Linked DNA regions of Homo sapiens: regions 1 and 3 are each linked to region 2. Evidence: fine-mapped expression QTL. A gene starts in region 2. Each other region holds a variant in brackets. All regions are shown on one strand. Distances are between the middles of the regions.

Region 1 (8,012 bases), 33 kb after region 2:
CTAATAAAATACACTCCAAGAATTTGTGATCTTAGCAAAGCTCTTAGGTGTAATCTTAGATGTGTGATTTTAGGTGTGATCTCAGGTGTGAATAAATGTCCAGCAGTGTGTTTGGGTCACGTAGATCCCTTGTGATTGCCAGCAGCTGGACACATGTAAACAAAAATTTGAATTTATTATAAGGCTTGGCTCACTGACCAGCAGGTCCCAGCTACAGTAGGGCCTTGGGAAATAGAACTCCAGCTAGAATGCTGTAGAACTCCTGAAATTCCCTCCTTTCTAACTCTTGTCTTTGCTCATTTATTTTACTCTTAGGTTTTGTTGCAGGTCAGTGACCCTGGCCACATGGAACAGAAACCTTCCCTGTTTAGGTCTCCTTTGTTTGGGAGACTGAGGATGAAAACTGCTCATTCCAAAGGCAAAATTTTAAGGAAAATGATTCTTATTGTCCCAGCAGATGTAGGTGCCTAAAACAGCATTAATAAGCCTTGGTCAATGAATGCAGGGATGTGTTGTGGAAGAATAGATGCTCCTGCCGCAGACACATGGATTGAAGAGGAAAAAATGAGGGGGGTGGCCAGGCAATAGAGTATGTGTTATACCGAAGTATTTTGTATTTCATCAGACTATACATTTTTGAAGGCAGCAATTGGGAAAGACTGTTGTCTCAATCTCAAATAATGGAATTCAGAAACTATGATTAAGTATAGAGTTTATTTGAGCACAAAGCTTGAGGGTAACCACTCAGGAAATACAGACACCTAATGACTGGAGTCAGCATTCCAAAATGGGGAAGTTAAGATTTCACTTACATAGGCAGTAAACAGGGTTGCAGCATTTTCCACATAAGGTCAGTACACACGTTATAGCAATTTGATCGGTTACTACTTGCTATGTTCCAAGAAAGATTGCTTTACCATTCCATCAGGAGGGATGATACTTTCAGGGGGTCTTATGTCTGGTGCCACAAGGCCTTTCCTGATCATTTACAGGAAAAAGCAGAAGTTGCAGTTGCATGCTACATAACTCAGGCCACACAGCCACATTCCTCTCAAGGCTCAAAATAAGGTAAATTTCCAACAGCTTTAAGTTTGCATTATTTAATTTCATAGTCATTCTATTTAGTTATAAGACCATTAAATGGATAATGGTGACCTCTATGTTAAAATATAGGGTTCAGGTCAGCAGCCAGCCTCAGAGCCCTCTCATAGCACAGCAAAGCATCACTTACTTCTCCTTTCAATTTGTGGATAAGCCCAAGGAGGCTGACACTTTCCACAACCCGTACATTCTGGTGAATACATCTTTTAGCCAATTTCTCTAAAGCATTGAGAAGTTTTTCCCTGGAATGGGACATTTTTTCTATTTTCAAACCTTTTAAATAATGGGTAATTGCTTTATCTTGAGATTTCCCATGATGTTCTTGGAAACGGCCGTAGTGGTAATGAATCTCTTGCTTTAGCTGATCTTCAAAGATCTTCATGCGTAACCCTTTCTGAAAATGTTCCTCAGCCTTTCTGTGGTGGCCTATTTCTGCATACGTTTCAGCCAGGTCAACATAGGCCATCTCAAATGTTCGCTTTAACATTATAGTCTTTTCAAATTTGCATATAGCCAATTGAACCAATCTGTCCACAGTTTCCCTATCTTGCCCTCTAGGCTGCCAGTTTGTAGCTTCCTTGATTTGGATCATTTGTGCCCTGTAGCAAAGCCCCATTTGGTGATGCAGGAAGGCAGAAGTGGGTGTTGTCTCCAAGGCCATTTTTAAGAGCTCAAGAGCTTTATCCACAGACCCTTTTCTTCGATAAAACTTGGCTGCATATTGAAAGACATAGGCCTGTGAAGATATACTGGTCAGAGCTTCTTCAATGTACTTTTCTCCTTCAGCTTCCTGTCCTTCATCCTGAAGCTTCAGGGCAAGGAGAACCCTAATATATACATCATCTGGATTTAGCCTGACAGCTCGTTTTAGGACGTGCAGAGAAAATGCCTTATTCCTCCCTGATGCTGTGTTAAATTTATCCAGGCGATAGACGGTGATTGCGTACCCAGTATTGAATTCAGGGTTTTCAGGGTTCCCTTCCAGAGCCTTTTCAAAGCAGGTCTTGGCCCGTTCATAATTCTTTCCACCACACTTCGCCAAGGCCCATCCTTCCTCACAGTCCACCTCTGGACACTCCATTCTATAGCGGGAAGGATTTGCAAACTTCTTGCAAGTGTTCTCCACCTTGTCCAGGTAAGTCTGGGCTTCTGCCAATCTGCCCATGTGGTAATACACCCAGGCAAAGTTGCCCCAGGTCACCAGACTTCTAATATCTGCTTGGTTGGCATGTTCTTTCTGAATTAAGTCTTCAGCCTTTTTCAAGCTGACCAGGGCTTCCTCATTCTGGCCTTTCAGGTGTTTCACATAGGCTAGTAGGTTGTGTATTCCCACATTGTATTTGGTGTCCAGGAACTGAATCTCTTCCCAGATCCTGTTTTCTAAATCAGGAATTTCAGGGGCTTCAATTAACAACTTCCATGTAAAGTGACATCTCAGCTGAATCAGGCTGTCTTCAATAAGCTTTCCATCAGATTCTTCACTGTAAAAATAGGCAGCAATTAATTACATTTTGAGAAAGTATTCAGTCCACTGAAAATGAAGCCAGCACTTCAAATAGTCAAATATGCTCTATCCTAATTTCCCTGCCTCCATTATCTGGTGCCCCTCTGGGTTCTACAGTCATGTCATTAGGAAAGAGAACAGGTTGACATAAAAACCAAGGGGAAATGCTAATCATCTTGTAGTGCCAACAGATAGGTTACATGAAGTCTAAAAGTCAATTCAAAAGAGGTTAATTCTGCTAACATCAAAATAATCTCAGCACCACCCTCAACACTGCAAAACCTGTCTTCTTTCTGCTTCCTCCTGACTTTGCAGTCCATGACTAATGCAGTCAGAAGAAATGTGGAGAGAGGGTTCACAGAAAGGTGGGTTCCTTACTCATCTTTTTCATGTTCTCAACACGTAAACACATTTTGGTTTTCTCTCCTCCCATGAAGGGTTCTGAGTAAAATATGAGAGCCAAATA[T/C]GGTTTCAAATGCAGGACTTCATGAATGCTCAAGCCAGGTTGGAGAATGTGGTAGGGTTTCTAACTCCTTTGCCTGTGTGCACTTACTCAACCAATCCTAAATGGAGGGGTTCCAAGTGGGTGGAACCACCTCACAAGGGCAGCCTTACTGATGGGGACAGAAGAAGAGGCATGAATGAACATTACATAGGTAAGATGTGTCTCTTTGAAGAAGTGGCAAGTCCCACTTTTGTAAGTCAGTGCTCCTGACATCAAGTAACCCTGAAGCCTAGTGGAGGACAGGCTATAAAATCTCAACAATTGTAGTAATCTCTCAGCCACTCATGAGGAAGAGAGAATAATATGAAGTCAGTGGGACCAGAAGGGTTTTTTTCCCCAATAGTTCACGCTCCTCTGAAGTGGAACTGAAGTCCTAGTCTCCCTATAAGAACATGAAGGAAGAAAAAGAAATTTGTCCTTAATAGTTGAAAAAGTGGTCCTCACATCCTATGTAAGTATATTTACCTCTGTGTTCTAAACTAATTACTTTACAGTCTATACTTGACATGTTTTCTATCCGTTAGGCCCAAGGAATGATTTCAGAGAGGACCATTATGAAATTTTCTCTTACTCTCTATATGGCAATGTATAGCAAAAACAATTTTTATATAAATCCTGACTCAATATAACCATAATATAATATAATATAACCATAATCTAATCACAAAAAATGGATGATGAAACATTCTTTTTTGAAAATAAAGGGAAAGAAAAAGTTCACGGCCAGGTGTGGTGGCTCACACCTGTAATCCTAGCATTTTGGGAGGCCGAGGTAGGCAGATTGCCTGAGCTCAGGAGTTCAAAACTAGCCTGGGCAACATGGTGAAACCCCATCTCTACTAAAAATACAAAAAATTAGCCAGCGTTGTCCCAGCTACTCTGGAGGCTGAGGCACAAGAATCACTTGAGTCTGGAAAGTGGAGGTTGCCATGAACCGAGATCATGCCACTGCACTCCAGGCTGGGCAACAGAGCCAGACTCTGTCTCAAAAAAATTAATAATAAAGAAAATAAAGGAAAGGAAAGAAAGGAAGAAAGGAAAGGATTCACAAGATAATGAATAGCACCACAAAGTTGGGCAGAGGATACTCAGGCTTATGACTGCTGCTTTGAGCACAGCTGGCAGCTCAACACAGCCCTCACTTTTCCCTCAGAGTCTCCATCTAAAAAACTCCCTACTATGCTTAGACCCTCCTTGAGTGCATTCCTGCCCACAATCCCAAGCCATCTTCTCCATCCTTGAGTCTGTGGAATATGAGAGTCCTGGCATATTGCTTTAGGATAGGACTGTATAGTTGACTGCTGAGATGAGGAGTCCCAGAAATCTTCCTTCCAGCTGTGGCCCAGGAAGATTACCCAATGAAACCTGTGTGTGGGGGTGTGTGTGGGACATATGCTGGGTGAGGTGGGGTCAGGAGTAAGTAAAATTAATATTGTGCTGAAGAATGCTCACTGAAAATAGTCACCACCCCTACAGAAGATGGAATCGGGAAGAGTTTTTGACCCAAATCGTCCACTCATGCCCCGTGGAGCTTGTGCTATGATGAGAACAGACACTACCCAGGGAAAATAATCCACACAGACTTCCATTACTCTAGAGCTGCTGGAATATTTGAAGATAAGCCATTCCAAGCTTTCTAAATATGTACCCAATCTCAGCATCTCAGCTGCTAGCCCACCCAGCACATTTGTGAGCAGTAGAAAGAGATCAGTCTTCCTCTGAGTGATCTAATCATGGCCATGCATTGATAGGTGGAAAAAAGTATACTAGATTTTGGCTTTCACTGAGATTGTAGAATTTCAAGTGCACAATTTACACAATCTTACAAGGCTGCCCTGCCAAGTTCCAGAAGAGAATTATTGCTCTTTCTTATAGGTGGTTGTTCATCAACATGTATCTTCTTGACTTGGGCCCTGGGAAGACTAAGGAGTAGAATATCACCCTAGAGGTGTCCTCACTCTCTAAAATGGAAATGCTGAGAGCCTAAAGTCCTCCTTTTATCTGGTGAGCATACAGAAAGTGCTGTTATTAGTAGTATACATATTATCATCAAATTAGGCCCCAGCGTGGTGGCTAATGCCTGTAATCCCAACACTTTGAGAGTCCAAGGCAGGTGAATTGCTTGAGCCCAGGAGTTCACGACCAGCATGGGCAACATAGCGAAACCATGTCTCTCAAAAAATACAAAAATTAGCCGGGCCTGGCGATGCACACCAGTAGTCCCAGCGACTTGGGCTGACGTGGGAGGATCACCTGAGCCCGGGCAGGTGGAGGCTGCAGTGAGCTGTGATCATGCCACTGCACTCCAGACTGGGTGACAGAGGGAGGCCCTGTCTGGAAAAAAAAAAAAAAAAAGATGAGTTTGTGCATGTATGTAGTGACCTAATCCCTGTATGCCTGTGGCAGACAGGGACTCGTCACCATGTTTTGTGAGGCATTTCCCTGGATCTTGTCCACTTAAGCTCCACTTAAGCTGTCTTGATCAATAAGCATGAATGGAAGGAGGAGCTCAATCTGCTCCTCTGTCCCTGAACCAGTGGGATCAGGAGGATTTTGATGTGGGCATTATTCAGTCTGGGATAGTCCAGATTCCCCTTAGGCCACCTCAGGTCAGTGGCTTCTAGAAACATACGCCCAGGCCATTGCAAAACCTCTCACATAGACTAGCTACCAAGGCAGCAGGGAATGAAAGGCTTGCTTTCTGTCAACTCCACAGATGCAGACACAACTAATACCTTTTGTTTTTTTTTTTTTTTGAGACGGAGTCTCACTCTGTTGCCCAGGCTGGAGTGCAGTGGTGCAATCTCGGCTCACTTCAAGCTCCGCCTCCCAGGTTCACGCCATTCTCCTGCCTCAGCCTCCTGAGTAGCTGGGACTACAGGCGCCCGCCACCACTCCCGGCTAATTTTTTGTATTTTTTAGAAGAGGCGGGGTTTCACCTTGTTAGTCAGGATGGTCTTGATCTCCTGACCTCGTGATCTGCCCATCTCGGCCTCCCAAAGTGCTGGGATTACAGGTGTGAGCCACCATGCCCAGCCACAACTAACATCTTATGACCAGGAGCCCGTTATATTAAAAAGAGAGACTTGGGTACTCTTGTGGTGAATTTTTTTGCAATCCTTCATTTATAATTTCTTCTCAAGACAGGTCTACATGTTTGCTAGAAAGGGATCTCAAAAGAGCAGCCCCTTTTTCTGTAAAGTTCTTCCTCTCCCACTGACTGCAACATCAGATGGGAGAACTCTAGCAGGTCAGAATACTTTTGAGTGAAAGCATTTTCTGCAGGTCACCAGTTCTAACTACACCAGGAAAAAAAGAAATATATATTTTGTGGAACAAACATATCACAATGCCTACAAAATTTCTTATTTTCTAACATCTAGTATAATGGTTTTTCAAATTTTAGCAGGCAACATGATCACCTGGAAAACTTATAACACACAGATTGATGGGCCCCACCCTAGAGTTTCTGAGTCAGCAGGTTTAGGGTAGGGCCTGAGAATTTGCATTTCTGCTACCTTCCCAAGTGATGCTGATGTTGCTAGTCAGGGGACCACACTTTGAGAACAGTTAATTCAGTGAAAAGCAAATTTCATAGTAATCACAATTTCATAGTTTCACAGTAATCACAAAATTTGACTTGGTATCAAAAACAAACAAACAACAGAAAAACAGCCATCTCTGAAAGTAGCTTCTTTTTCCCACGTGAATTTAACCAATTTATCAAATAAAAATAGCTGCTTCTTCTCACCTGGATGCCTAAAAGAGTATTTTGTATATTAAAAGGATCTCAATGCTCTTGCCCTGACTGGTCCCCGGGCCAGTCTCCTCTCTAGGCTCAGGCCTCTGTTCCCTGGTGAACAGTCTTTAAGTGTTGCCTGGGTAATTGTCCCTCTATTAGAAAGTGCTACAGAAATGACATCTTTGGAAATAAGATTGCTTTCTCGTTTATTTCCTTAAGAGCATTGCTGCTTTTATTAAGCCAGCTACCCTTACTAAGCGAGCTCTGTAACAGGAGTTAGGAAACTTGCCTCTACATATATTCTCATCTTGCCCCTCTGAATCTACTTTCCTACATTCTTCACCATGCTCTGTGCTTGGAAGCTGACTCTATGGACTTTATTAACTCCAAAACTCTTTTATTTTTTACTTTCTACTGGGGTTGGCCCACTGGGGAGCACCAGCCAGATATTAAATTGCAGGAGGAGGTGAAGGTCATGGAATTAATTCCTAAGCTCCCACTGTGCTCTGCTTGAGGTTGTCAGTGATTTTTTCACCAAAGGCCTCTTGAGAAGCCCCTCCCCTACAGCTATAGCTTAGAGTCTCCTTGGGTCTGGTTCTCTCCTCTTGCTCCTGTAGGCCCAGGGTTATCATGTTACCACTGTTGTAAACCAACACGCCTCTTCCCGCTGCCCTGCAACCAACAAGCACCATTTCCTGTTGATTTCCCTAAACTTTGCCCATATCGTCTTAAATAGCCCCCTTATTAAACTCTTCTTGGTTATCATGTTGAGGGTGCCTATCAGGGTCAGAACCACCAGTGGGACAGCTCCCTTAGGAGAAGGCCTGTCAAAAAATTGGCCCTTAAGGAAAGTTTTAGAATTTCAAAGTGTGCAGAAATAAGGTCAGTGAAGCAGAGAAAGACTTTACCTCATGGTGCTATGAAGATAGCAGGTGATCTGTAGTGCTTTGGTTCAGGCTTGGAGGCTCCTTCAAGGTTCATCCACAGAGTTCTAGGGCTTCTCAGATAAGCATGGTGCTTATATATGGGAGGTATATCCAGGCAGTTTTTTACACCCTTGATGCCTAGTGAATTGGCAGGGTGAAAATGATACAGAGGAATAGGGCTGTCTCTGCTTTGATTACAAATACATGCTGAGTTTTGGCAGCTAAGAGGATGGG
Region 2 (8,012 bases):
TTCCTGATCTAGGTATCAAAGGTTTACGTAGGAATATATTTACTATATAATATGAGAAATTCAAAGAGCAGAGATAAAAAGCACAGATCTAATGGCCATACCATTTTTAGAAGTTACAATAGCTAGAATATTGCTATTTCTCAATGGATTATAGTATTTTAATTAAAAAGAAAAAAAGAAAGAAAACCGCACAAGATTCATCATAATGCATATAAAGTATTTAGCACAATGCTTGGTACACAATAACTATTCAATAAATATTAGCTCTATAATAAACAAGGGATTAAAATAATAAAAAAAAAACAAACAGGAGAACCCAAAATGAAGGGAAAAACTTAGAGCTAATTTCCTAGAGTATGTATTTAAATGGAAAGTCGGAGCTCACAGAGAGCAGTCAGGAATTCTGCATTTTCTGGATCTATCTTTTGTGCCTTCTCATAGTACTCAGCAGCTTGCCTCTTTTCTCCTTCCAGCTTGTAAACAAACCCTAGGGCACTTAAACTCTGCACATCTAAAGCATTGTGACAAAGTCTCTTGGTAGACAATTTCTTCAGAGCACTTGTCAGTTTGGTGCGAAGGGGTGATCTGTCTTTGACCTTTAAGGCTTCTAAATAATGATGGATGGCAGTATTTTCTGATTTACGGTGAAATTCCTGAAAGCGGCCATAGTGGTAATGGATCTGATGTTTGTGATCATCGGTTATGTTCTCCAGACGAAGAGCTTTCCGGAAAATGTCCTCAGCATTGCTATACTGGCCTCCTTCAGCGTACATGTTGGCCAGGTCTGTGTAGGCAAATGCAAACATAGAGTCTCGTTCCATGGCTGCTTTGAAATGAAATATAGCAGATGAAATCAGCTCATCAACCTTTAGTTTATCCTTTCCTTTAGGTCTGTTGTGTGTGGCCTTCTTGATTTGGATCATTTGTGCCCTGTAGCAAAGTCCCATCTGGTGATGCAGGAAAGAAGAAGTTGGTGTCACCTCCAAGGCCTTTTTTAAAAGTTCGAGAGCTTTGTTCCAGGAATTTTTTCTCCTATAGAACTTGGCTGCATAACGAAGGACGTAAGGCTGGGATGATATTTGGTCCAGGATTTCTTCAATATACTTTTCCCCTTCAGCTTCTGCATGTACATCTTGAAGCTTCAGTGCCAGAAAAACCTTAATATAGCTGTTATCTGGGTTCAGGGTAACAGCCTTTCTCAAAGGCCCCAGAGAAAAGCTCTTTACAGACCCTTCTCTATCAGAATCATCCAGCCGATACACTGTGATAGCATAGCCGATGTTAAATTCTGGATTGTCAGGCTCCACTTCCAGAGCCTTCTCAAAAGCCGCTTTAGCCTTTTGATAATACTTTCCTCCAAATTTCAAGAGTGCCCAGCCTTTCTCACAGTCAGTCTCAGGACACTCCAACTTGTAGTTAGAAGGACTGGACAATTTCTTACAGACATTCCCTATCTTACCTGTATACTTCTGAGCTTCTTCAAGCTGGTCCATGTGATAATACACCCAGGCATAGTTTCCCCAAGTGACCAGGCTTCGTACTTCTTCTTTGTCTGAGTGTTCTTGCTGGATTATTTCTTCTGCTTGTTCCAAGCACTCAAGGGCGTCTTTATTTTGGCCTTTTAGGTGTTTCACATAGGCCAATAGGTTATAAAGAGCAAGTCTAGATTTTGTGGTAAGAAATTCAAGCTGTTGCCCAATTGTATCTTCTACCTCAAACAGATCAATGTCTTCCTTAAGTAAATTCCATGTAAAATGACATTCTAACTCCAACAGAATGGCCTTCAAGGTGTCCTTACGAATTTCACTGTCAAAGATAAAATACTTTTTAATTTTTGAAGAAATACAAGAAATAATTTTCTAAACCTTAAATATTGTTCTTTGCATAACAACTAATTTTATCCCTATTTGATCTTACAGTTAAAACATAAGTTTCCCATAACTTTATACTAGAGTTTCTTCTATATACAGTTATGTCCTAGAAATATTTCATTTAAATTCTCACTATTTATTGCAAAAACAGTTCTGGAGAGATGACAGAGCTTTCTGTATTACATGTATCTATTTCCTTTTGGCAATCACTAAACCATTGAAAATTAGGAATGAATATATACATATTCAATAATTAATATGAAAATTCCATTTTTGTATTATGAGTACTGATCCTGACTAGGAAACCTGGTAAAATTGCTCCTTGGTAATTGTTCCTTTCTCTAGTGTAATTGTACCAAAAATATGGGCAAGACATGCCATGTCCTTACAGCCTGCTTAAATCCACAACAACATGGCTTTACCAGCCCCCTGCCTAAAACAAACACCTGTTTTGAAGGTCTCTACCAGCCCAGCCCAAGGAGGATGAGGAGGGCTGCTCAGGTATTATGGATTTGGTTGTAAGATCTCAAAGGGACATTCAATCAGGTACTGACGTGGTTTGTCCAGGCTCTGGAATTTATGCACAACTGGACACCATGAGAATTTTTATTGTTTAAACTTTGTCTACTTAATTTTGTAACTTTGTCTTTGGGAAGCTAATAAGAGAGAAGCTATTGCATCAGAAGAGGTAACACGTATCTTTCGGTAATTCTGTTCTTCTGCTAGGAAGAAGCAGACTTTCATTGTCCTTGGGAGACAGTCCCCAATGGGGCTGAGCCCTTTTCCTCCCCATCCTGCATATATACGGTGCACGCCACCGTCTTTTTCTGTTTTTTGTTGTTGTTGTTGTTTTGTTGTTGTTGTTGTTGTCAAGCCCCTTCCTGATAGCACTCTCCTTTCTTACAAATGTTAGATGTGGCCAGGCGTTGTGGCTCACGCCTGTAATCCCAGCACTTTGGGAGGCTGAGGCGGGTGGACCACGAGGTCAGGAATTCGAGACCAGCCCGGTCAACATGGTGAAACCCGCGTCTCTACTAAAGATACAAAAAATTAGCCAGGCGTGGTGGCACACGCCTGTAATCCCAGCTACACGGGAAGCTGAGGCAGGGGAATGGCTTGAACCCGGGAGGCGGAGGTTGCAGTGAGCCGAGATGGAGCCATTACACTACAGCCTGGGTGACAGGGCGAGACTCCGTCTCAAAAATAAAGTTAGATGTGTGGGTGGCACTTAAACTTTTTTTTTAAACTTATAATGGGAATAATTAACATTTATTGTGCAAGTATTATGTGCTAAGCAGTCAACTGATAGGATTTATTACTGTCCTTTTCCACAGTCCCAAGAGATGGACACCATTAATTTTTACAAATAAGGAACAGACTCACAGAGTTTGAGAAACTTTGGGATCACTCAACTAGTAGGAGTTCAGTCCGGATTTAGAACAAGGGACTATCTGCTTTTAGAGCCCAAGACCTTAACATCTCATTCCTCAACTCATTAAATGCGGAAGGTTCACTAACCACGTGCAGGGCGGGGTGCTAGCCCCTGGGGATACAAAATGATCAAGAAAAGGACGCCATCATACTAAATCAGTAAAGGAAACAGATAAAGAAATCCTCATAAAACAGCGGATTGGGTGGGACGATAACAATCTGTGCTTGGTACAGAGGTAGCTCCTGGGAAGGGAAGAACTCAGACCCAGAAATCAGAAACGCAAACTGGCAGTGGCAGGCGAACCTGACGCCTGCAGGGCTGCGGCGAAACCGCGTATGCCACACCGAGGGAATGGCAGCTGGAAAGAGAGGCACGCGACAGGCCTAAGGAGACCCGTGGCACGTAGCAGCTGCCCCCGGAACAGCGCCTGGGGGCTCTGCAGGCGCTGACCAGTTTCCCGGAGGCGGCGGCCGCGGACCCAGCACGGTCACCGTCGCCGCTGCCGAGAAGAGCCGTCGGGTCGCGATGGGTGGACAGGCCTTCCGGGGGAGCGTCGCCCGGCACATACCCTGACAGTCCCGACCGCAGACGCCAGGGATGGGACAGGCTCCCGGGGAGCATCTCCTGTTCCTCCTCCCTGACCGGCCTTCTTAGGCGCTGGGGAGGGGCCGGACTCCCGAGAAGCGTCCACTCGGCCACCCTCCCCGGCAGGCCCGACTTCAGACGCCGCGCGCCGGGACAGAGCGCCCGGGGAGGGTCCCCAACGCAGATGCCCGGTTGCTGGGCGCGAGGGGCTCGGCCCCTGAAAAGGCCGCAGAACTGCGCTGGAAATGAATAAAAGCAGCCCGGTTTGAAACCAAGGCCGACGCAGGGCTTGGGAGGAGAGGCAAAGGAAAACCCTTACCTCATGATGGCAGCGCTCTGCAGGCCGTCCGGGCGGCGCAGTCCCTCGGATCGCTCTCTCCTCAGCACCGGGGACCGCGGGAAGCCGCGCGGTGGGCGTGCGCGTGCGCGTGCGCGCGCCAGGCCTCTGCAGCCCCTGGACTCGGCCGCGCGGCGTGTCTTTGTTAAAGGAGAGACCCCAGCCCCAGCAAGAACAGGAAACTGGAGATTGAATCAGATGCCGAGCGCTCAGAAACTGAAACTTAAGAAATCGAAACTAAACGTAAGCTTCAGAAACCGAAACTTAATAGAAGAGCTCAAGAGCCGCGGCCAGACGTTTGCGGAGTCCAGGGTCTTTCGGAGTTGAATTTGCAGCTGGGCTCCTTCACTTTGGTCTCGGCTTTTATCTGCCTCCCTGAGTACGCTGAGTTCGCATGCTGCCCGTGTAACTGTTTGTTTGTTTGTTTGTTTGTTTGAGATAGCGTCTCACTGTGTCACCCAGTCGTGATCTCAAGGGATGCGCCCGCCTCTGCCTCCCAAGGTGCTGGGATTACAGGCGGAAACTTAAGTCCCTGCTTCCACTCCAGTCTTTTGATTCAACAAGCAACACTGCAATGCTATACATCTATGCTGTTATTTCTGTTGGGTGTAAACTGAGAAATTTGGAGCTAAAATCTATATACATTTTAAGTTTTGACGGATATTGCCAAATAGCTTTAAAAATCCACTCTTACCCACAATTGTAGGAGACTGCTTCTCTTCCATACCTTCGCCAATGGTGCTTTGTAATAAGGACCCAATAAAGACAAGAGTGGTATTGGGGATCTAGGCAGAAAATGTCAAACACCCATACCTTAAACATTTTGTCCCCTTTGAATTCATTCAGCAAATATTGACAAACAACTGTAAGAGCCAGACTTTGTTCAAAGTACTGTCAATATAACAATAAAGAAAACAGACACGGGCCTTACCCTTATTGAGTTAATGTCTGTATTCAAAACCTCAATATCCTGTCCATAATTCATCTTTTGCATTGATTTTGGTTTTTTTTTTTTTTTTGAGACAGGGTCTCACTCTGTCACTCAGGTTGGAGTGCAGTGGTGAGATGACAGCTCACTGCAGCCTCAACCTTCATGGCTCAAGCGATCCTCCCACCTCAGCCTCCTGAGTGGCTGGGACTATATGCGTGCACCACTATGTCGGGCTAATTAATTTATTTTTTGTAGAGGCGGGGTTTTGCCATGTTGCCCAGGCTGGTCTCCAACACCTGGGCACAAATATTTTTCTAAACCTTAAATATTGTTCCGCCCATCGTGGCCTCCCAAAATGCTGGGATTACAGGCATGAGCCACTATGCTTGGCCTGATTTTGAATTTTTAAAAACATATTGCATTGAAATATTGTCTACCTTGATCACTGAGCTTCTGGCACCCCACCCCTCAAAACTTAGTGCCTGAAGCGAGTGCCTCATTTAAAGCAATCACTTCTAACAGTTGTACTGTCTTATACAGAAACTGCTGGTCACCTGTGGCTATTAAGAACCTGATTTTTAATTTAATATAAATTTAAAAACTGATAAGTTAATAGAAAACTTACATTTGGAATAACTTAGGTATACGAATCTGCTTTTTATAAGTTGCAAATTTTATGAACTCTAAATACAGAGCAAGTATTTCCAGTGATTATCCTCAGCAAACTAATGCAGGAACAGAAACCAAACACTGCATGTTCTCACTTGTAAGTGGGAGCTAAATGATGAGAACACACGGACACAGTGGGGAACAACACACACTGGGGCTTGTTGGAGTTGGGGGTGGTGGGAGGGAGAGCATCAAGAAGTATAGCTAAGTGATGCTGAGCTTAATACGTAGGTGATGGTGTGTCCGGAATTGGTTCCTTCCAGTAGGTTTTTGGTCTTGGTGACTTCAAGAATGAAGCTGCGGACTCTCGCTGTGAGTGCTACAGTTGTTAAAGATGGCGTGTCTGGAGTTTGTTCCTTTCGATGTTCAGATGTGTCTGGAGTTTCTTCCTTCTGGTGAGTTCGTGGTCTTGCTGACTTCAGGAGTGCAGCTGCAGACCTTCACAGTGAGTGTTACAGATCTTAAAGGTGGCGCGTCCGGAGTTGTTCGTTCCTCCCGGTGGGTTCGTGGTTTCACTGACTTCAGGAGTAAAGCCGTAGACCTTTGTGGTGAGTGTTACAGCTCATAAAGGCAGTGTGGACCCAAAGAGTGAGCAGCAGCAAGATTCGTTGCGAAGAGCGAAAGAACAAAACTTCCACGACGTGGAAGCAGACCCGAGCAGGTTGCCGCTGCTGGCTGGGGTGGCCTGCTTTTATTCCCTTATTTGGCTCCACCCATATCCTGCTGATTGGTCCATTTTACAGAGAGCTGATTGGTCCACTTTACAAAGTGCTGATTGGTCCATTTTACAGAGTGCTGATTGGTCCATTTTACAGAGTGCTGATTGGTCCATTTTGACAGAGTGCTGATTGGTGCGTTTACAAACTTTTAGCTACACACAGAGTGCTGATTGGTGCGTTTACAATCCTTTAGCTAGACAGAAAAGTTCTCTGAGTCCCCACCTGACCCAGAAGCCCAGCCAGCTTCACCTCTCAATCCCCCCTCTAAACAGGACACCCCAATTGCTGATGGGAATTTGGCTGATGACTGCTCTAGCTACTTTCTGCTGGATAGGGGCGAAGAAGGGGCCCTGTAGGTGTAGTGTCCTCCAGAGGGGAACTCTTTAGGCCAGTGGAAGGGCCAGCAGGTCAGTCCAGGGGTCCTCGGTAGAAGTTGTTAGTTGAACTCATTTGGGGTTCCATTTGTAAGACCATCTGTAGCTTGAGGGCCTCAATTCTAGAGGAAACAAATTTGACAAGAAGGTTAAAAACACAGGGCCCAAAGACAAGTAACAGCAAGATGGCTGCCACAGGACCTAGAAAGGGGAGAAGCCATGTTGCCCAACTCCAGAGGTTGGTATAAGAGTTTGAAAGGTGTTGTCTGATTTCAGAAGCCTTTTCCTGTAAACACCGGGTGGCATCTCGTGCTATCCCTGACTGGTTAGTGTAAAAACAACACTCTTCCCCTAAGAAGCTGCACAGTCCTCCTTTCTCAGCAGTGAGGAGGTCTAGGCCTTGGCGATTTTGGAGAGTCGCTGCTGCCAAAGAGTCTGTTTGGGATTGTAGAGTAAGGATAGATTTCATTATTTCATGCAAACTGTCTGAGAAATCCTTTGAGAGTGTATGGTAGTAGGATAATGCATGTTACACTGTTAACTTTTAGCAAACTTTACGTTAGTTGAAAACCTTGTAAGTTTGGGATTTCAATTATTCTTTGCTATTAGTAAGACCTCGTTCAGTCCATATTAACTTAGAATTGGTATAGATGGCTCCTTCCTGATTCTGTAAGTATTTTAAGGTTTGGCTGAGTGCAAACAGCTGACACATTTGAGCAGACCAATTATTAGGCAATTTTCCTAACACTGCTTCTACAAGAGTTTCCTTATTATTTACTGAATACCCATTGTGTTTTTTTTTTCCTTAATTGCCCAGGAGGAACCATCTATCCGTCCTGTCCTGAAGGGAGTTCCTCCTAGATCTGGTCAGACCTTTGTATGGGAATTAATTAAGATTTAGATCCCCTGTTAGGAAACCTGCTGGGTAAGGATTTTTGATAGGAAGGCTACTGGTTGTCAGTGGCCTCAGTGCTTTCAGGCTACGCCCTTGTTTACACTGACAGCAAGGTGGTATTGGAGTGTTATAGGGTTTCTGAGAAGACCTTCAGTTATCAATTATAGGTTTTAAATTTACCCTGGCTTTTAAAGGAATA
Region 3 (8,012 bases), 98 kb after region 2:
TCATAGCCTTTGCCCACTTTTTGATGGGGTTGTTTGATTTTTTTCTTGTAAATTTGTTTAAGTTTTTTGTAGATTCTGGATATTAGTCCTTTGTCAGATGGGTAGATTGTAAAAATTTTCTCCCACTCTGTAGGTTGCCTGTCCACTCTGATGGTAGTTTCTTTTGCTGTGCAGAAGCTCTTTAGTTTAATTAGATCCCATTTGTCAATTTTGGCTTTTGTTGCCATTGCTTTTGGTGTTTTAGACATGAAGTCCTTGCCCATGCCTATGTCCTGAATGGTATTGCCTAGGTTTTCTTCTAGGGTTTTTATGGTTTTAGGTCTAACATTTAAATCTTTAATCCATCTTGAATTAATTTTTGTATAAGGTGTAAGGAAGGGATCCAGTTTCAGCTTTCTACATATGGCTAGCCAGTTTTCCCAGCACCATTTATTAAATAGGGAATCCTTTCCCCATTGCTTGTTTTTGTCAGGTTTGTCAAAGATCAGATGGTTGTAGATGTGTGGTATTATTTCTGAGGGCTCTGTTCTGTTCCATTGGTCTATATCTCTGTTTTGGTACCAGTACCATGCTGTTTTGGTTACTGTAGCCTTGTAGTATAGTTTGAAGTCAGGTAGTGTGATGGCTCCAGCTTTGTTCTTTTGGCTTAGGATTGTCTTGGCAATGCAGGCTCTATTTTGGTTCCATATGAACTTTAAAGTAGTTTTTTCCAATTCTGTGAAGAAAGTCATTGGTAGTTTGATGGGGATGGCATGAATCTATAAATTACCTTGGGCAGTATGGCCATTTTCACGATATTGATTCTTCTTATCCATGAGCATGGAATGTTCTTCCATTTGTTTGTGTCCTCTTTTATTTCATTGAGCAGTGGTTTGTAGTTCTGCTTGAAGAGGTCCTTCACATCCCTTGTAAGTTGGATTCCTGGGTATTTTATTCTCTTTGAAGCAATTGTGAATGGGAGTTCACTCATGATTTGGCTCTCTGTTTGTCTGTTATTGGTGTATAGGAATGCTTGTGATTTTTGCACATTGATTTTGGATCCTGAGACTTTGCTGAAGTTGCTTATCAGCTTAAGGAGCTTTTGGGCTGAGACTATGGGGTTTTCTAAATATACAATCATGTCATCTGCACACAGGGACAATTTGACTTCCTCTTTTCCTAATTGAATACCCTTTATTTCTTTCTCCTGCCTGATTGCCCTGGCCAGAACTTCCAACACTGTTTTGAATAGGAGTGTTGAGAGAGGGCATCCCTGTCTTGTGCCAGTTTTCAAAGGGAATACTTCCAGTTTTTGCCCATTCAGTATGATATTGGCTGTGGGTTTGTCATAAATAGCTCTTATTATTTTGAGATATGTCCCATCAATACCTAGTTTATTGAGAGTTTTTAGCATGAAGGGCTACTGAATTTTGTTAAAGGCCTTTTCTGCATCTATTGAGATAATCATGTGGTTTTTGTCTTTGGTTCTGTTTTTATGCTGGATTACATTTATTAATTTGCATATGTTGAACCAGCCTTGCATCCCAGTGATGAAGCTAACTTGATCATGGTGGATAAGCTTTTTGATGTGCTGCTGGATTCAGTTTGCCAGTATTTTATTGAGGATATTTGCATTGCATCGATGTTCATCAGGGGTATTGGCCTGATATTCTCTTTTTTTGTTGTGTTTCTGCCAGGCTTTGGTATCAGGATGATGCTGGCCACATCAAATGAGTTAGGGAGGATTCCCTCTTTTTCTATTGATTGGAATAGTTTCAGAAGGAATGGTACCAGCTCGTCTTTGTACCTCTGGTAGAATTCAGTTGTGAATCCATCTGGTCATGGACTTTTTTTGGTTGGTAGGCTATTAATTATTGCCTCAATTTCAGACCCTGTTATTGGTCTATTCAGGAATTCAACTTCTTCCTGGTTTAGTCTTGGGAGGGTGTATGTGTCCATGAATTTATCCATTTCTTCTAGATTTTCTAGTTTATTTGCATAGAGGTGTTTATAGTATTCTCTGATGATAGTTTGTATTTCTGTGTGATTGGTGGTGATATCCCCTTTATCATTTTTAATTGCATCTATTTGATTCTTCTCTCTTTTCTTCTTTATTAGTCTTGCTAGTGGTCTATCAATAATGTTGATCCTTTCAAAAAATCAGTTCCTGGATTCATTGATTTTTTTGAAGGGTTTTTTGTCTCTATCTCCTTCAGTTCTGCTCTGATCTTAGTTATTTCTTGCCTTCTGCTAGCTTTTGAATGTGTTTGCTCTTGCTTCTCTAGTTCTTTTAATTGTAATATTAGGTGTCAATTTTAGATCTTTCCTGCTTTCTCTTGTGGGCATTTAGTGCTATAAATTTCCCTCTATACACTGCTTTAAATATGTCCCAGAGATTCTGGTGTGTTGTGTCTTTGTTCTCATTGGTTTCAAAGAACATCTTTATTTCTGCCTTCATTTTCTTATGTACCCAGTAGTCATTCAGGAGCACGTTGTTCAGTTTCCATGTAGTTGAGCAGTTTTGAGTGAGTTTCTTAATCCTGAGTTCTAGTTTGATTGCACTGTGGTCTGAGAGACAGTTTGTTATAATTTCTGTTCTTTTACATTTGCTGAGGAGTGCTTTACTTCCAACTATGTGGTCAGTTTTGGAATAAGTGCAATGTGGTGCTGAGAAGAATGTATATTCTGTTGATTTGGGGTGGAGAGTTCTGTAGATGTCTATTAGGTCTGCTTGGTGCAGAGCTGAGTTCAACTCCTGGATATCCTTGTTAACTTTCTGTCTCGTTGATCTGTCTAATGTTGACAGTGGGGTGTTAAAGTCTCCTGTTATTATTGTTTGGGAGTCTACATCTTTTTGTAGGTCTCTAAGGACTTGCTTTATGAACCTGGGTGCTCCTGTGTTGGGTGCATATATATTTAGGATAGTTAGCTCTTCTTGTTGAATTGATCCCTTTACCATTATGTAATGGCCTTCTTTGTCTCTTTTGATCTTTGTTGGTTAAAGTCTGTTTTATCAGAGACT[A/G]GGATTGCAACCCTGCTTTTTTTATTTTCCATTTGCTTGGTAGATCTTCCTCTATCCCTTTATTTTTAGCCTATGTGTGTCTCTGCCATGAGATGGCTCTCCTGAATACAGCACACTGATGGTTCTTGACTCTTTAGCCAATTTGCCAGTCTGTGTCTTTTAATTGGGGTATTTAGCCCATTTACATTTAAGGTTAATATTGTTATGTGTGAATATGATCCTGTCCTTATCATGTTAGCTGGTTATTTTGCTCGTTAGCTGATGCCGTTTCTTCCTAGCACCGATGGTCTTTACACTTTGACATGTTTTGCAGTGGCTGGTACCGGTTGTTCCTTTCCATGTTTAGTGCTTCCTTCAGGAGCTCTTGTAAGGCAGGCCTGGTGGTGACAAAATCTCTCAGCCTTTGCTTGTCTGTAAAGGATTTTATTTCTCCTTCACTTATGAAGCTTAGTTTGGCTGGATATGAAATTCTGGGTTGAAAATTCTTCTCTTTAAGAATGTTGAATATTGGCCCCCACTCTCTTCTGGCTTGTAGAGTTTCTGCCGAGACATCTGCTGTTAGTCTGATGGGCTTCCCTTTGTGGGTAACCTGACCCTTCTCTCTGGCTGCCTTTAACATTTTTTCCTTCATTTCAACTTTGGTGAATCTGCTAATTATGTGTCTTGGAATTGCTCTTCTCGAGGAATATCTTTGTGGCGTTCTCCGTATTTCCTGAATTTGAATGTTAGCCTCCCTTGCTAGGTTGGGGAAGTTCTCCTGCATAATATCCTGCAGAGTGTTTTCCAACTTGGTTCCATTCTCCGTGTCACTTTCAGGTACACCAGTCAGATGTATGTTTGGTCTTTTCACATAGTCCCATATTTCTTGGAGGCTTTGTTCATTTCTTTTTACTCTTTTTTCTCTAAACTTCTCTTCTCACTTCATTTCATTCATTTGATCTTCAATCACTAATACCCTTTCTTCCAGTTGATGAATTGGCTACTGAAGGTTGTGCATGCGTCATATAGTTCTCATGCCATGGTTTTCAGCTCCATCACATCATTTAAGGTCTTCTCTACGCTCTTTATTCTAGTTAGCCATTCGTCGAATCTTTTTTCAAGGTTATTAGCTTCTTTGCCATGGGTTCAAACATCCTCCCTTAGCTCGAAGAAATTTGTTATTACCGATTGTCTGCAGCCTTCTTCTCTCAACTCATCAAAGTCATTCTCCGTCCAGCTTTGTTCCATTGCTGGCAAGCAGCTGCATTCCTTTGGAGGAGAAGAGGCACTCTGATTTTTTAGAATTTTCAGCTTTTCTGCTCTGGTTTCTCCCCATCTTTGTGGTTTTATCTACCTTTGGTCTTTGATGATGGTGACATACAGATGGGGTTTTGGTGTGGATGTCCTTTCTGTTTTTTAGTTTTCCTTCTAACAGTCAGGACCCTCAGCTGCAGGTCTGTTGGAGTTTGCTGGAAGTCCACTCCAGACCCTGTTTGCCTGGGTATCACCAGTGGAGGCTGCAGAAAGGCAAATGTTGCTGCCTGATCCTTTCTCTGGAAGCTTCATCGCAGAGGTGCACTCTGCCGTATGAGGTGTCAGTCAGCCCCTACTGGGAGGTGCCTTCCAGTTAGGCTACTCAGGGAGGAGTAACAGACTAACTCCCACTTGAGGAGGCAGTCTGTCCATTCTCAGATCTCAAACTCCGTGCTGGGAGAACCACTACTCTCTTCAAAGCTGTCAGACAAGGGTGTTTAAGTCTACAGAAGTTTCTGCTGCCTTTTGTTCAGCTATACCCTGCCCCAGAGGTGGAGTCTATAGAGGCAGGCAGGCCTCCTTGAGCTGTGGTGGGCTCCACCCAGTTTGAGCTTCCTAGCCACTTTGTTTACCTACTCAAGCCTCAGCAATGGTGGGCGCCCCTCCCCCAGCCTCACTGCTGCCTTGCAGTTCCATCTCAGACTGCTGTGCCAGCAGTGAGCAAGGCTCCCTGGGCATGGGACCCTCTGAGCCAGGAGCAGGATATAATCTCCTGGTGTTCTGTTTGCTAAGACCGTTGGAAAAGCGCAGTATTAGGGTGGGAGTGTCTCAATATTCCAAGTACCATCTGTCATGGCTTCCCTTGGCTAGGAAAGGGAATTCCCTGACTCCTTGCACTTCCCGGGTGAGGCGATGCCCCGCCCTGCTTTGGCCCACACTGTGTGGGCTGCACCCACTATCTGACAAGCCCCAGTGAGATGAACCCAGTACCTCAGTTGGAAATGCAGAAACTACCATCTTCTGCATCACTCATGCTGGGAGCTATAGACTGGAGCTGTTCCTATTTGGCCATCTTGGAACCTCCTCTGAAACTGCATTTTTAATAATGTCTCTAGGAGATTCTGATGTAGGGGTTTCTGGGAGCCGGTTATATGAAAGACTTCCAAAATGTTTTGTAAAAAAAATAGTAGTTTTAGTATACATATGTAACTAACCTGCACAATGTGCACATGTACCCTAAAACTTAAAGTATAATAAAAAAAAATAGTAGTTTTGTCCAGTAAATTGTCCCCCAGAAGTAAATTTAGACCTAGAGACCTAGATTTAATTATCTCTGTTTACTTTACTAGTTCTCGAATTTTCCAGGGGCCATATCATTGAGCCAGAATTTCCTTTTTGCCTCACACTAAACATACGAAGCCAGGCCCTGGAGGGATCTGTGAGCTGTTTAGCTTTCCAAGCTCTGGATAATAATTTAGTTTACCCAGCTGTAAAATGGGCAAAAGTAATACACATATTATTGTTTAATGGATGGATTATATATTTATGCTTTGAGCTCTGAAGGAGTTGATACTACCCTGAGAGGTTTTTTTTTTCTTTTCATTTTTATAATACTTCCCAACCATGATGTAAATATTCATAAAAACCTAGGGAGTATAGTTGTCATGACTAATTTGATAATGAAGGAATTGTTAGCTAGAAGCGTTTCCTCCATCCTGTAGCTGCACAAAGCAGAGACTCTTGTGTAGCAAAATTAACATGACATATGGTGTTTCCAACAACAGAGTCTCATGAGATACTTCGAGTTCAGAGGTTGTTATAGTCTAAGAAAGAAACCTGCAACTTGGAAAAGTCTAATTCTGATTGGTTGTTTAACTTAACAATTTGTTATCTTGGTGATAATAAAGTGACATATCTTTATAAAAGGTACATATATTTGTGATATCATAAATGGTATAAATACCATCCTTATACCCAGTTAGAAGGTGCCTTTGGCCCCGTGCTTTAGAGGGTCCCATATATCACAGATACAAACATGTAAAATTTTGAAAGAACAAATAGCACCTCTGTTACTCAGAATCCAGTGCTTAATTCTGGTAGAATTGGACTTGAAACCCTAAACATCCAGCCCAGGGAAAAGTTGCCTATCTTCCCTTCTTTGCTCACAATGAATGGAGATTATATCATGCATGTTTGTGCATTGTGAGGGAGCTGATTTTTAGAGACAGATTCTGCTTTGGAGTTCAGAGAGGATTGTAGCAATAAAGATCAGAGAAAAGGCAAATTCAGCAAACTGCTCAAAGACTGTCTTTCACCAGAATGCAATAGATTCTTATGTAATGAATAATTATTTTTCCAGTACAGTAGGACCTATTGTCCATTTTCTTGCTTTTCTTTTTGTTCTAATTCCTGGCTCAAAAAGTACTCATGAATTAGCAGTATTTGCAACAGTTGCACATGGTGACTGAATAACATTCTGCATCATTAAGAAATTCATACTATTCTTTTTTTTCTTTTTGACAGAGTCTCGCTCTGTAGCCAGGCTGGAGTGCAGTGGCACAATCTCGGCTCACTGCAACCTTCACCTCCTGGGTTCAAGAAATTCACCTGCCTCAGCCTCCCGAATAGTTGGGACTGCAGGTACCCACCACCATACCCACCTAATTTTTGTATTTTTAGTGGAGATGGGGTTTCACCATGTTGGCCAGGATGGTCTCGATCTCTAAACCTCGTGATCCACCCGCCTTGGCCTCCCAAAGTGTTGGGATTAGAGGCGTAAGCCACTGCGCTCGGGCATAAATTCACATTATTCTTAAACTTGTACACATGCAGATTTGAACTTACATATGGAGTCAAATTCTCTTCTGTATTTGGACTCTTTCTTTGTGCCAATTTGCCAATCAGTAAGGTTCCTGCGTATGAGTATTTAAATATAAAATCAGATGGGACCAGATTTTCATAGCACACCCAACTCAGAAAATAGAATACATAACTTATCTAACATATCTACCGAATGTGAAAGCAATGACAGTATTCAAAATGCTACTAATAAGGATACAACACAATGAAAACAAACTTAGAAGTAAAAATAGATAACAAAAGAAAAATTTTCTTTATTATATTTGGAATAAGAGTGCCCATTTTTAACAGCTATAATAAAATATAATTCACATATCATATAATCCACTCATTTAAAGTATACAATTCAATAGCTTTCATTATATTCACAGTTATGCAACCAGCACCACAATCAATTATAGAACATTCTCAAGCTGTCATCTCCCATCGTCACAACCCCCTCCCCTAGCCTTAGGCAACTGCTAATCTATTTTCTGTGTCTATAAATTTGCCTCCGTTCCACATTTCATATAAACAGAATCATACAATATGTGACTTTTTAAATTGCCTTTTGTCACTTTGCATGTTTTCAAGGTTCATCTGTGTTGTATCATGTATCAGTAAGTACTTCACTTATTTTTGTTTCCAAATAATATTCCATTATGTGGCTCTACCATATTTAATTTATCAATTCATCAGTTGATGGGTCCACTTTTTGGCCATCATGAATAATACAGCTATGAACATTCATGCACAAGTTTTGTGTGAACCTATGTTTTCATGTTTTCCTTTTTCTTACATATGTATCTAGGAATGGAATTGCTGGGTCATATGGTAACTATGTTTAACCATTTGAAGAACTGTCCAACTATTTTCCAAAGTGGCTGCACCATTTTACATTAAACATACTTATTTTTGAGGTAATACAGATTTTCTTATC

Which allele goes with the higher level. Positions count from the first base shown, and alleles are read on the strand shown. Sizes are in standard deviations (SD) of each study's normalised expression. Not every link is listed here.
For the expression in atrial appendage of the gene that starts at base 4,443 in region 2, allele T in region 1 goes with a higher level than allele C (moderate effect, 0.75 SD a copy in GTEx).

The links. PIP is the estimated chance that this variant, and not a neighbour inherited with it, causes the effect.
Region 1: its variant is fine-mapped to the expression of IFIT5 in atrial appendage (GTEx, PIP above 0.99). The same link has a PIP of 0.9 or more in stomach.
Region 3: its variant is fine-mapped to the expression of IFIT5 in whole blood (TOPMed, PIP above 0.99).

Annotation. Positions count from the first base shown.
Region 1 is chr10:89,377,889-89,385,900 of GRCh38, reverse strand. IFIT1B (interferon induced protein with tetratricopeptide repeats 1B) reads right to left here and starts at 7,845. Exons shown (of 2, transcript NM_001010987.2): 1 at 7,761-7,845; 2 at 696-2,582. The coding sequence starts at 7,765. The coding sequence ends at 1,163. It also overlaps a transcript of LIPA not described here. The variant T/C (reference allele first, on the strand shown) is at 3,072.
Region 2 is chr10:89,410,999-89,419,010 of GRCh38, reverse strand. It overlaps IFIT5 (interferon induced protein with tetratricopeptide repeats 5), which reads right to left and starts at 4,443. Exons shown (of 2, transcript NM_012420.3): 1 at 4,208-4,443; 2 at 1-1,806. The coding sequence starts at 4,212. The coding sequence ends at 363. It also overlaps a transcript of LIPA not described here. RefSeq lists enhancers at 3,397-3,466, 3,567-3,666, 4,277-4,586.
Region 3 is chr10:89,313,405-89,321,416 of GRCh38, reverse strand. It overlaps a transcript of LIPA not described here. Among named protein-coding and RNA genes, the nearest start is that of IFIT3, 11 kb to the left of the region's middle. The variant A/G (reference allele first, on the strand shown) is at 3,002.